Linked DNA regions of Homo sapiens: region 1 is linked to region 2. Evidence: fine-mapped expression QTL. A gene starts in region 2. The other region holds a variant in brackets. All regions are shown on one strand. Distances are between the middles of the regions.

The links. PIP is the estimated chance that this variant, and not a neighbour inherited with it, causes the effect. A credible set is the group of variants that fine-mapping cannot tell apart.
Region 1: its variant is the best candidate, but not a certain one, in a credible set for the expression of SHB in sun-exposed skin (GTEx, PIP 0.56).

The regions. Positions count from the first base shown.
Region 1 is chr9:38,020,244-38,025,243 of GRCh38, forward strand. The region is part of intron 1 of SHB (SH2 domain containing adaptor protein B); the gene reads right to left. Among named protein-coding and RNA genes, the nearest start is that of SHB, 46 kb to the right of the region's middle. RefSeq lists an enhancer at 1,223-1,732. The variant C/A (reference allele first, on the strand shown) is at 2,957.
Region 2 is chr9:38,066,758-38,072,231 of GRCh38, forward strand. It overlaps SHB (SH2 domain containing adaptor protein B), which reads right to left and starts at 2,470. Exons shown (of 6, transcript NM_003028.3): 1 at 1,172-2,470. The coding sequence starts at 1,888. LOC105376039 (a long non-coding RNA gene) reads right to left here. Exons shown (of 4, transcript XR_007061483.1): 3 at 5,284-5,369; 4 at 4,670-4,794. RefSeq lists an enhancer at 907-1,710 and silencers at 1,601-1,650, 2,071-2,880.

The sequences.
Region 1 (5,000 bases), 47 kb before region 2:
TTTTGGTACAGTAGACAGAATGTTTCCCAAACTTGCCTGAAGACAGGAATGGCTTGGAACGCTTGTTAAGGAAACAGATTCCTAGCCCCAATAATCTGTATTTTAACAAGCAAGCCAGGTGATCCTTATCAGGAAAGCTTGGGAAACAATAAGCTAGAGCCAGCACCCTTCCCCACCAGTCTAGAGACAAGCCTCCAGATATTACTCTGGAATTGTACTTTTCCCAGGTATTGCTCAGCCCTGTTCGTTGAAGTGAAGCAAGAAGTTTGTGCTAACATGCAGCTCTTTTGTTTTCTTCCCTGGTGGTCAACTGGAGAAAAAGAGGACCCGACGTGCCATCTCCAGGATCTAAGACATGGAGGAAATGGTAACCCCTCTGCAATCATGTGGGCTGGCTCCAGATTGAGCAATTCGGCCTGTGCAGGGGGAGAGGGCTACCAAAATCTCACAAATCACCACTAAAGAACTTAGTCATGTAACCAAACACCACCTGTTCTCCAATAACCTATGAAAATAAAAATTTAAATAAATTTAAAAAAAGACTTCTGCCCTGTCACCACCCTGAAAGTGACGGGGTGGGGGGGTGGCCCAACAGGGATCCTAGCCCCGAGGATCTTGCAAGGCAAGGCTTTCTGTTTGAAACCCACAGCAGCTTTCAGGCCAAGGCCAATTTACTCTCAGCAAACTCGTTCTAGGAAGATCACCCGGCTACAGGAAGGGCTGGTGGCACTTCAGAAGAGGAGCCACTGCAGAAATGCAAAGGGAATCTCTGCTGAAATTGCTCAAACCTGCTAAAAAGAATGATGAGGCATGTCCGGGCTTAGTGGCTCACATCTGTAATCCCAGCATTTTGGGAGGCCGAGGCGGGCGGATTACCTGAGGTCAGCAGTTCGAGACCAGCCCGACCAACGTGGAGAAACCCAGTCTCTCCTAAAAACACAAAAAAATTAGCTGGGCCTGGTGGTGCATGCCTGTAATCCCAGCTACTTGGGAGGCTGAGGCAGGAGAATCACTTGAACCCGGGAGGTGGAGGTTGTGGTGAGCCGAGATCGCGCCATTGCACTCCAGCCTGGGCAGTAAGAGCGAAACTCTGTCTCAAAAAATAAAAATAAAATAAAAAAGAATGATGAGGCTGGGCACGGTGGCTCACACCTGTAGTCCCAGCACTTTGGGAGGCCGAGGTGGGCAGATAACCTGAGGTCAGATAACCCTGAGTTCAAGACCAAGCCTATCCAACATATAGTGAAACTCTGTCTCTATTAAAAAATACAAAAATTAGCTGGGCGTGGTGGTGCATGCCTGCAGTCCCAGCTACTTGGGAAGCTGAGGCAGAAGAATTGCTTGAACCCAGGAGGCGGAGGTTGCAGTTAGCTGAGATCGTGCCACTGCACTCCAGCCTGGGTGACACAGCGAGACTCTGTCTCAAAAGAAAAAAAAAAAAAGAATGATGAGAGAGGCAGACTGGCTGCTGTCTTCCAGGATCGAGTGGCCCACACTGTCCCTATTGCCCCATGGTCACCTTCATGTGCCCTGCTGTCTGTGGGACAGCACAGGCCTGTGTCACACACCACACTGCATTTTTAGACAGGTGAATAATGAGTGTTGAATTATGATGCAGTCAGCACGTCGCATCTGCACATCCGCCACCCTGCTAAGGCAAAGGAGAGAGTGTCTTGCTGGCTGAAGGGTCTCTGTGCTGCTCTCCTCTCCCCGGAAAGTGAGGGGGCAGCACCCCACAAGGCCCCTGATTCTTGCCAGGCCCTTGACTTCTGCTCTATGCCAAAGCAAACCGCATATGAATGCACTTGAGAATGTTCTCAATGCTCCCAGTCAGACCATTTTCTCACTGATTCACCTTTAAGACTATACATTAATTTCCTTAACAGTTTGGGGGCCACTAATCTCTTAGAGAATATGATCATTGATGAAGTTGTGCCTCCCCTCATCACATTACATACACCCACAGAGTGTTGTTGAGCACATCATAGGAAGGTCATGAAGCAAGCCCCCCTGTCTAGGGCCACAGTAATGAACAGTGAAAACAAGACACTCTCTCCTTTACCTTAGCAAGGCAGCAGGTGCACAGATGCGACGCGTCGACTGCATCGTAATTCAACACTCATTATTCACCTGGCTAAAAATGCGGTTTGGTGTGTGACACAGGCCTGTCATTGACTGTGAGAGGGTCACTCTGAGAGAATGATGGCCTGGGGCTCTTTGTCTTGGCTTGCCGGGAGCCCTGGCCCTCTCCCCAGCTCTGAGGGTCAGGAGGGCTCCTTGAAGGTGAGCAAATAGCATTTGGGGACGTGAGGCGGCAGCAGCAGCACAAGTGCCTCTGTCCCCGCTCCGAGGCCTGAAGTCCCAGTCCTCCTTTGGGACCCCCCCATAACACAGGCCCTAGCGGGCCTGATGTCCACAGGAAGGAGGCTCTGTTGCCATGCCAACAAAGATGACATTACAGAAACAGAGATTTGGGGGTCTGGAGAGGGCTTCAAATAATGATGAGGCCGCTCAGAGAAGCGGTAGTGGACAGATGTTCTGTGCAGACCCAGAAGCCATACAGACACAAGCCAGGTGATTCAGGAAAGACATCGACAGCCAGTAAAGGAACACGCTGCCTGGGAAAGGGAGCTCCTGCTGCGTGGGGTGTCCAAACAGAGGCTCTAAGATGGGCTTCTGCTTTGGGGGGAAGGTCAGCTGGCTGGATGCCACACTCAGTATCTTTCTAGTGCACATACAGTGCAAAGCCCAGACTCAACTTGGACGTAGAGGTCTGAGCTGCCCCAAGCAGAGCCCTGGCTTTAAGGACTGGCTAAGTGGGTTGCAGAACCCCTGCCATGGCGGAGGCAGGCAGCATTTCCAAAGTCCCAAGGCTGACCGGTGGCAGCTGGGCTGCAGCAGCTGCCCGAGGCTATGTAAATATACAGAAAGGCAGCTGGCAGTGCAGAAAGGATGC[C/A]GCCAGGCAGGGACAGTCCAGGCAAGTGGAGCTCTGGAACTGGTTCTGCTACACCCTTGCTGGGTAACTCCGTGCAACCTGTTTTCTCTGAGTTTCGGCAGGTCACCTGTGAAGTGGAGCAGGGTGGTTTGCCTTCTCAGCTTCACATAAACGTTGTAAGGAGCAAATAATCAGATGATCCAAGGATGTGTCAGTAATTTATAAAGAAAAGGCCGTGTCCTTGTTACAGAGCAGATGGCACCTCCAGGATGAAGGTAAGTGCGGTGAGGGGCAAAAGCACTTTCAGGCAGGGTCTCTGCCCACGAGAAGATGAAAATCTGGTAGGGAAGACAGGACAAAGACGTGAAAAGAAACCCCCGCCAAGGCCCCGGTGATTACCAGGGAAAATGGGTACAATTATGCATGACAACAGCTGTCCTATTTCTCAAACACAAAAAGGAAAATGTTTGTGAATGCCCTTTTTTCCCCCCTTTCCTGCTTTGGGTAAGATTCATGCCCTAGTTGGGGCACCTGGCAAAGTGGTGGAGAACCTCTCATAACTCTCGAGGCACTTCCGCCTGTGTGCTGGGAGACAGAAGTGTGACTTGCCTATGGCCAGCATCCAGGGCCCTGAGGGGTCCACAGCACCAGGCTGTTACACCACTCAGGGATATGGGACACCCATGCAGGTACACACACAAGCGCCCCCTACTCGCCTCTTCCTGTCCTCAGCTTTGACTATCATCATAGACCAACTCTCCTTATAGGCACGCCAATAAATCACTGCTGACATGGTAAGGAAATTAATTTAGGGAAGATTAATTAGCTACATTCATGCACTCAGCTGCAACTGCTGGAAATCAGACGGTGGGGAGGTTGGTTTTCCACTCCATTTAGGATTGGTTTGCTTTCTACCTTCTAAGATCTGGCTTGCCTCAAAGTTCAAAGCCCCCTCTTGCATCATGAAGGCCCCTGCCAAGTACTCCGCCCACATGCCTTCAGGGGCAGGGAGCTCATGATGTGGCAACACAGTCCTCTGGGACGGCCATCACCACTAAAGTGTCTTCCCTACACTGAGCTGAAATCTGTCTCCCAGCAGCCACTATCCGTTTTTCTACTGACCTAAGGTGTTCTGTCCTAAATGCTCCTTTACAGACCTGACAGTGACCTGCCCCACATGTCAGGAGGCTGGGAGTGTGGGGGGTTAAAGTGGTCACCACTGGTCTTTCCAGTCCTGCCCCTCCCACGGCCACAGCTGCTTGCCTAGACACCTGCAGGCTCCGACTTGTTAGGAAAAACACATTCCAAATTCCAGCCTCTGTCAGCTCCTCTCAAGCCTGCTTGCTCAGCCTCTCTCTCTCCGTCACACACACACACAGCCCACTGTCTTCCAGCTTCACCCCCTCAGAGTGAGCTGTGGGTCCTGGGTAGGAGGCTGCTGGGAACAGAGCCTGGCTCCACCCTCTGTTTACCCCAGAACCTCAAGTGGTAGAGACAGGCTTTTCAGCATCTCTCAAGTAGTGGGAGGTTCTATTTTGAACTCAGAAATACCTCAATCCTAGAATTTCTTAAGTGCTTTCAGCCAGGGACTATGGATAGAAAATCCAGCACATCCCTCCTGAGGACAAAAACACCCGGGGAGGGGTCTGCAGCCACTACTGAAAGGATCCCTGGGGGATGGTCTATTCTGCTAGATCTCAAACTCTTGTGTGTGCATGATTTCTGCAAAGGGAATCTTACACATGCACCACTGAAGAAAGTGACACCATGCATAGTTTGAAAACCATTTATCCACTGGGGACAGAAGGCTGTGAGTGGGGATGAACTTAGTAAAGTTAATGCCAGGACCAGGTAACCCAACCCATGTTTCCAAACTCCCAGGTCCACACGATTTCTTCAATGCCTATACCACTAACTTTCCTCTTAAAATCATCTTTAAAAATGTCAGAGTATAATCACCACAACTGCCTCACAGAAGAACCCCCCTACCTCCCCTTACAAGGACCAACCACCCATCGCTGTGGACAGCTCTCTGTGGGAGGTGGGCTCCGGGCCAGGCTGGGTC
Region 2 (5,474 bases):
CAAAAAAGATCCCTTTCCAAGCACCAGATGGCAGGTAAGAGCCTGTCTCCCTCCTGTCTGGACATCCAGTCCTAAAAGGAACTCAGACTCTTAATCAGTCTCCCCCAGCCCAGGCCTGGGCAAAGGTTTACCTTTGGGGGAAGAAGGTGGGGAGAACAACAGCCACGCACCAGGGCGCTGAGAAGGAAGGAGCTCTCCCACCGGGCCTCAGATTTAATCAAAACACTGCCTTCCACCAGAAGACAGAACAAGTATTATTTTATGGGGGAAGGGAGGGCTTCACAGGAGTGTGAAGGGGGAGGAGGGGACCTAGTCTGGCTGTAATTAACTCGTCTGCTTCAAAGGGAGGAATCTAGGTGGCCTAATGCGTTAGGAAGGGGGCTGTCACAAAGTCCCCCCGTGTTCCTGGGACCTTATGGGGTAGGGGTGAGGTCAGGAAGGAAGCAGGTGAGGATAGGAGGGGTGGGGTCTCCTTCCAGCCGGGCCTGATAGGCTGACCCCCTCCCGCGCGCAGCGGGAGGAACTGACGGGTTCGATGAGGAGCGCTCTTGCAGGCAGCGCATTTCAACCGGAAAAGCACGCGTGGAGGTTCCCGGAGCAGCTCCGGTACCAGGCAGCCCGGATTTGGAAACCTAGAGCTGGGGGTGGGGCAGGGCAGGGCCGGGCAGGGCAGCCGCGAGAGATTTACATATACACGCTGGAGACAGCCGGTCCGGATCTGCCACCAAGAAAGCTGTGTAATATTGGGCGAGTCCCTTCCTTGCTCTGGACCTCAGTTTCCCACCTACAGCGTGAGCGGAGGGTGGAGGCTGGGATAAGGGGTGTCAGGAGTCAAAGCTCTTCGAAGTCCTAGACAGCTCTGACTCTGACTTTACTCCTTGGCAGCCAGAAGGACTGACTGGGTCCGTCTTCCTGGGGCAAGGCTGGGCCGGGCGCTCTCGCTCAGAGGGGACGTTCTGGAAGCAGCGGCGAAAGAGGTGGGGTCAGGAGGCCGCCGGTCCCAGGAAAAGGGCGCGGGAGGAGGCAGAAGCGGGAAGCAGCACGCCAGCCCCGACCCAGGGTCCTAGGCCGAAGCTGAAGTAGAGACTCAACACCAGAGCGGCGGGTGCCTCGGTTTCCCCGTGCGCACCGTGGCTCTGGAACCTCGGGAAGAGGCCAAGGGGCACCTTACCTTGTCCTTCTTGCCGGCCCCGCTCTCCTCCGCGGCTGAGGCGGCGCACTTGTTGAGCAGTTTCTTGCCTCCGCAGGCCGTCGGGCTCCAGGTGCGGCCGCCCGCGCAGGCGCCCCCCAGGGGGTCCCCGGCCCCACCGCCCGCGGCGCTCTCCACTTTGATGAGGCGGTGCTTGGGGGAGATGTAGCGCACCTCGGCCGGCGTGGCGGGCCGCCGCTCGCTGCTGCTGCGGTAGAGATGCGGAGAGCCGGAGGACGAGGACGAGGACGCGGCGGCCCCCGCGCCCGAGGAGGCGCAGCAACAGCCCGCGGCGCCCGACGCGGACGAGGCCGAGAAGGCGCGCTGGACCCCGCCTGGCTCCCCGCTGCCGCCGCAGTAGTCCAGGCGGCACATGGCGCGCAGTTTGCGCAGCGACGAGCCAGGCCCGTTGTAGGGGTCCTCGAAGTCTCGCTCCTTCTGCGCGCGGTAGGCGCGGATGAGGTCGCTGGTGCTGCCGCTGTCGTCGGGCAGCGAGCCCGAAGAGGCTGAGAAGCAGGAGGCGGTGGCCGGACCGCAGGACGCCGAGGCGGCGGAGGAGGCCTGCGGCACGGCCTGGGGGGGCTGCGAAGGCCGCTCGCCTCGGCGCCGCTGCTCGCGGTAGTCTGGCCGCGGCGGCTGCGGGGGGCTCTTGGTCTTGCTGTTGCCCAAGCTGAAGTACTTGTTTAGCCACTTGGCCATGGCGAGAGGCCGCCTAGGGCCGCGGCGCGGGAGCCCGGTCCGCCGCCGCGGCCATTCGGGGGGCAGCGCTGCGGCGCAGGTCCCTCGGCGCCCCGGCCCCGGCGGGGGGCGTCCGGGGCGCCCGCTCCCGACGCCAAGTTCAAGTTCTTGCCGCCGCCGCCTCCTGCCGGCAGCTCTCTGGCTCCGGCGGCTGCAACACCTCCCTCCGCCTAGCGCCGCCCAAGCTAGGAATCTCGCGCCCCTCGTGGGCGCGTCTCATGGGGTCCCGGCCCACGCCCGGGGGAGAGCGGAAGGTCCGAGCGCTCCACGCCGCGGACCCTTTGGCCGTACGCCCCTCGCCGTGGATCGCGCTCCTGCCCCGTCGGAGCCGCAGCCTCCGCCTTGGCCGGGATCCGCGGCTGCCGCGGGAACTTCTCGGCGTCCTCGGCTCCCTTCTTCCTTCCTGCGAGCGCTGGGGAGAGCTCGGCCCCGCAGCGGAGGAGAATGCGGCCGGGAGAGACAGCGAGCGACGGAGGAAGGCAGCCGGCGCCCGCCGGAGCCCGCGCGCCCGTGCCCGTCCCGGCGGCGCCTGTCGCTGCCACTGCCGCCGCCTCCCGAGCCGCCGCGTGTGTGACACTCAGGCCGCCAGAGCCCGCCCCGCGCCGCCGCCCCGCCCCCCCGGAGCCCGCTCGCGCGCCCCGCCCCCCGCCCGCTCCCGCAGACCCAGCACCGCCCATCCCCGCGAGCCTGGCCCCGGGCCGCGGCCCAAGCCCCGCCCCCCTCGCGCCCGGGGCCGGGGTGGGCGCACCTCTCCGCTCCTGCACACGCCACCTCCCGCGGCTGCCCTGGCGCCAGCACCAGGGTCTTGCCCCAGGGCGCTGGGGTCCCGCCGCGCAGCCGGCTCCACCTAGCTTGCAGCTCGCCGCCGCCTCGGGCGAGAGGTTGCCTGGCGGAGCCTGCTACGCGCAGAGGCCAAACCTTTCCGCAGTCCCCCGGGACCCCGCGCGTTGTTCACTCCAGGGATCCCCCTGTCGGGGTTGAGGAGGGAGAGTGGATTAACACGGAACCTGTCTAGTTTACAGCGTGGCCCGTGTGGAGGAAATGCAGTGCCTAGTGCCCTTAGGGACAGAGTGGCTGTCCCTCTTCCTTAAAGGGACAGACTCCGGTTCAGCCCCGTGCGCCAGGTCTTCGGAGGAATCTTTATGCTAATGAGTGTATTAGCAGTCCAGATGACGGATGTGGTCGGGATAGGCGGTGGGAGCCGGGCCCAGCACCAATCCGAGAGCAAGGCTAGGGGAGGTCGGAATGTTTGCTTACCTTTTCACCTCTGAGGAAGTCGAGGCTTTAGCCCTGTTCGCTGCCAGCCGGCGGGGAGCAAGTTGTGGGAACATTTAATGCCTTATGTTGTAGGAGCTGGCAAGGATCCATTTAATACAGGACCTCGGCCGGGTGCGGTGTCTCACGCCTGTAATCCCAGCACTTTGGGAGGCCGAGGCGGGTGGATCACGAGGTCAGGAGTTTAATACCAGCCTGGCCAAGATGGTGAAACCCCGTCTCTACTAAAAATACAAAAATTAGCCGGGTGTGGTGGCGGGTACCTGTAATCCCAGCAGCTACTCGGAAGGCTGAGGCAGAGAATTGCTTGAACCTGGGAGGCAGAGGTTGCAGTGAGCCGAGATCACACCACTTCACTCCAGCCTGGGCGACAGAGGGAGATTCCGTCTCAAAAAATAAATACAGGACCTCATTTTACAGATGGAGAAACTGAGGCCCAGAGGAAAGTCACACAGGTGGACTTGGATGCCAGTTCCTAAGTCGGGTGGCACCATAATTATGTCTTTTCCAAGAGTCTCTTCTTTGCGATTTCAGATCATCCTTTGATTATTAACCAAAATTGAGGAAACAGTCCCAGGGAGTGGCCTGATTTGGTCAGTGTAACTTTTCCTGGGATCTGCACCCAGGGGAGGTGGCATGCTCCCTGTTGAGAGGGAAATGCTGCCTAAAGATGAAGTAGCTGCCACTAGGGCCTGGTGCTGCTTTGAATTTGCCTGGGCAACCCTCAAAATGTGACTTAACTCTAAGATGTGGGCACCTGAGAGCTGAGAAATTCTCTAAGAATGTTGATTTACTAAAACAATAGCCCAAATCAATAATCTGCATTTGCTGTCTGTCTGTTATAGATGTGCTTTGGGGGAGTCTGTTTTTCCCATATCCTGTAGTAACAGTGGGAACTGTGAGGGCAGACAGCAAGGCCAGGGGCTCTTTTGATCACATCATAGTTCTGGCCACGCTGGAAGTAGAGGTCAAACTCAGATTTCAATCTGAGACATTTGGACAGGGAAGGCCTGAGAGCTGTTACTGCTTCCTCTCTGTAACCCACCCAGACTCATGCCTGAGGCCACAGCACAGAAGTGATAGAAGCAGGACTTGAACTCGGTCTTATCCTGAAGCTGACCTCTGTCTGCTCAGCCATACACAGTGGTAAAGTGAAATTGACTTCAAATTTGTTATTCCAGAATCAAGCTATTTGCCCTTTCCCTCCTTGGTCAGACAAAACTGTCATCCTCTGTGGCCAGTTGAATTTTCCAAACCCACTATGTGACGTCTCACAGTCGCAGATACTATCACCAGCTACAGAGCATCTTCATTGCCTGAGATCTATTTACTTAGCATTTCACAGGAAATAATCTAAGGGATGTGTGTGTGTGTGTGTGTGTGTGTGTGTGTGAGAGAGAGAGAGAGAGAGAGAGAGAGAGAGAGAGAGATGTGATGTGTCTGGGGCATGCAGAGAGGACCCAGAAGTTGACCTGGCTAGGATGTTTATTTTGAATATACCTAGACTTAAGTATCTCCGTTACCCTTTAAATTGTTCCTCTGTCGCATTGGCACTTAATTATCTTGCACGTAAGGAGGCCCCAGTAGAAAACCTGAAAGGCAAGGACATCCTTGTTTTAAGCCCCACCTTTCATCCAACCACAAATCCTCCCCAGCTCCCTTCCTTCCCATTTCTACTTCTGGGCTCAGATCCTGGCAATAGGCCAGGCCACCTGAGACAAGAAAGTCCTCACCAGAATCTGGAAGCTTGCTCCCTGCATGTGTCTTGCACATGGAAAGGTTATCTCTGCCTTTTCCAAAAGTTCAGGAAGAGAAGTTATATTTCATAACTTATTTTTTCCATGTCACTTTCATCAGGCCGTAGAGTCGGATCCACTTTTCCATGTGATACCTCTGCTGGGGTATAATTTGCAAGCCAGAATTATTGTAATGCTATAGTATTATGCCAAGAACTTCCAGAGCACTTGTGTATCTGCTCAACCCTTAGACACTCTGTATATAATTAACCCTCCTCAACATCCCTGCAATCTGGTGTTATTCCCAGTTTACAGATGGGGTAGTTGGCCTAAGGTGGTATTTACCTCAAGCAGGCAAAAACCACATGGGTGTTTTCCTTTGGGAGCTTGTAGAGACGACCATCCAAGACTCAGAGTCCGAAATAATCATTCTGAAGGGAAATAGAAAAAGCTTCCTAAGGACTTTGCCAAACGGTTTAGGAAGACAAACACTTGTAGAAGTATTAGAGCATTATAGGAAGTAAGAGCTGGACAGA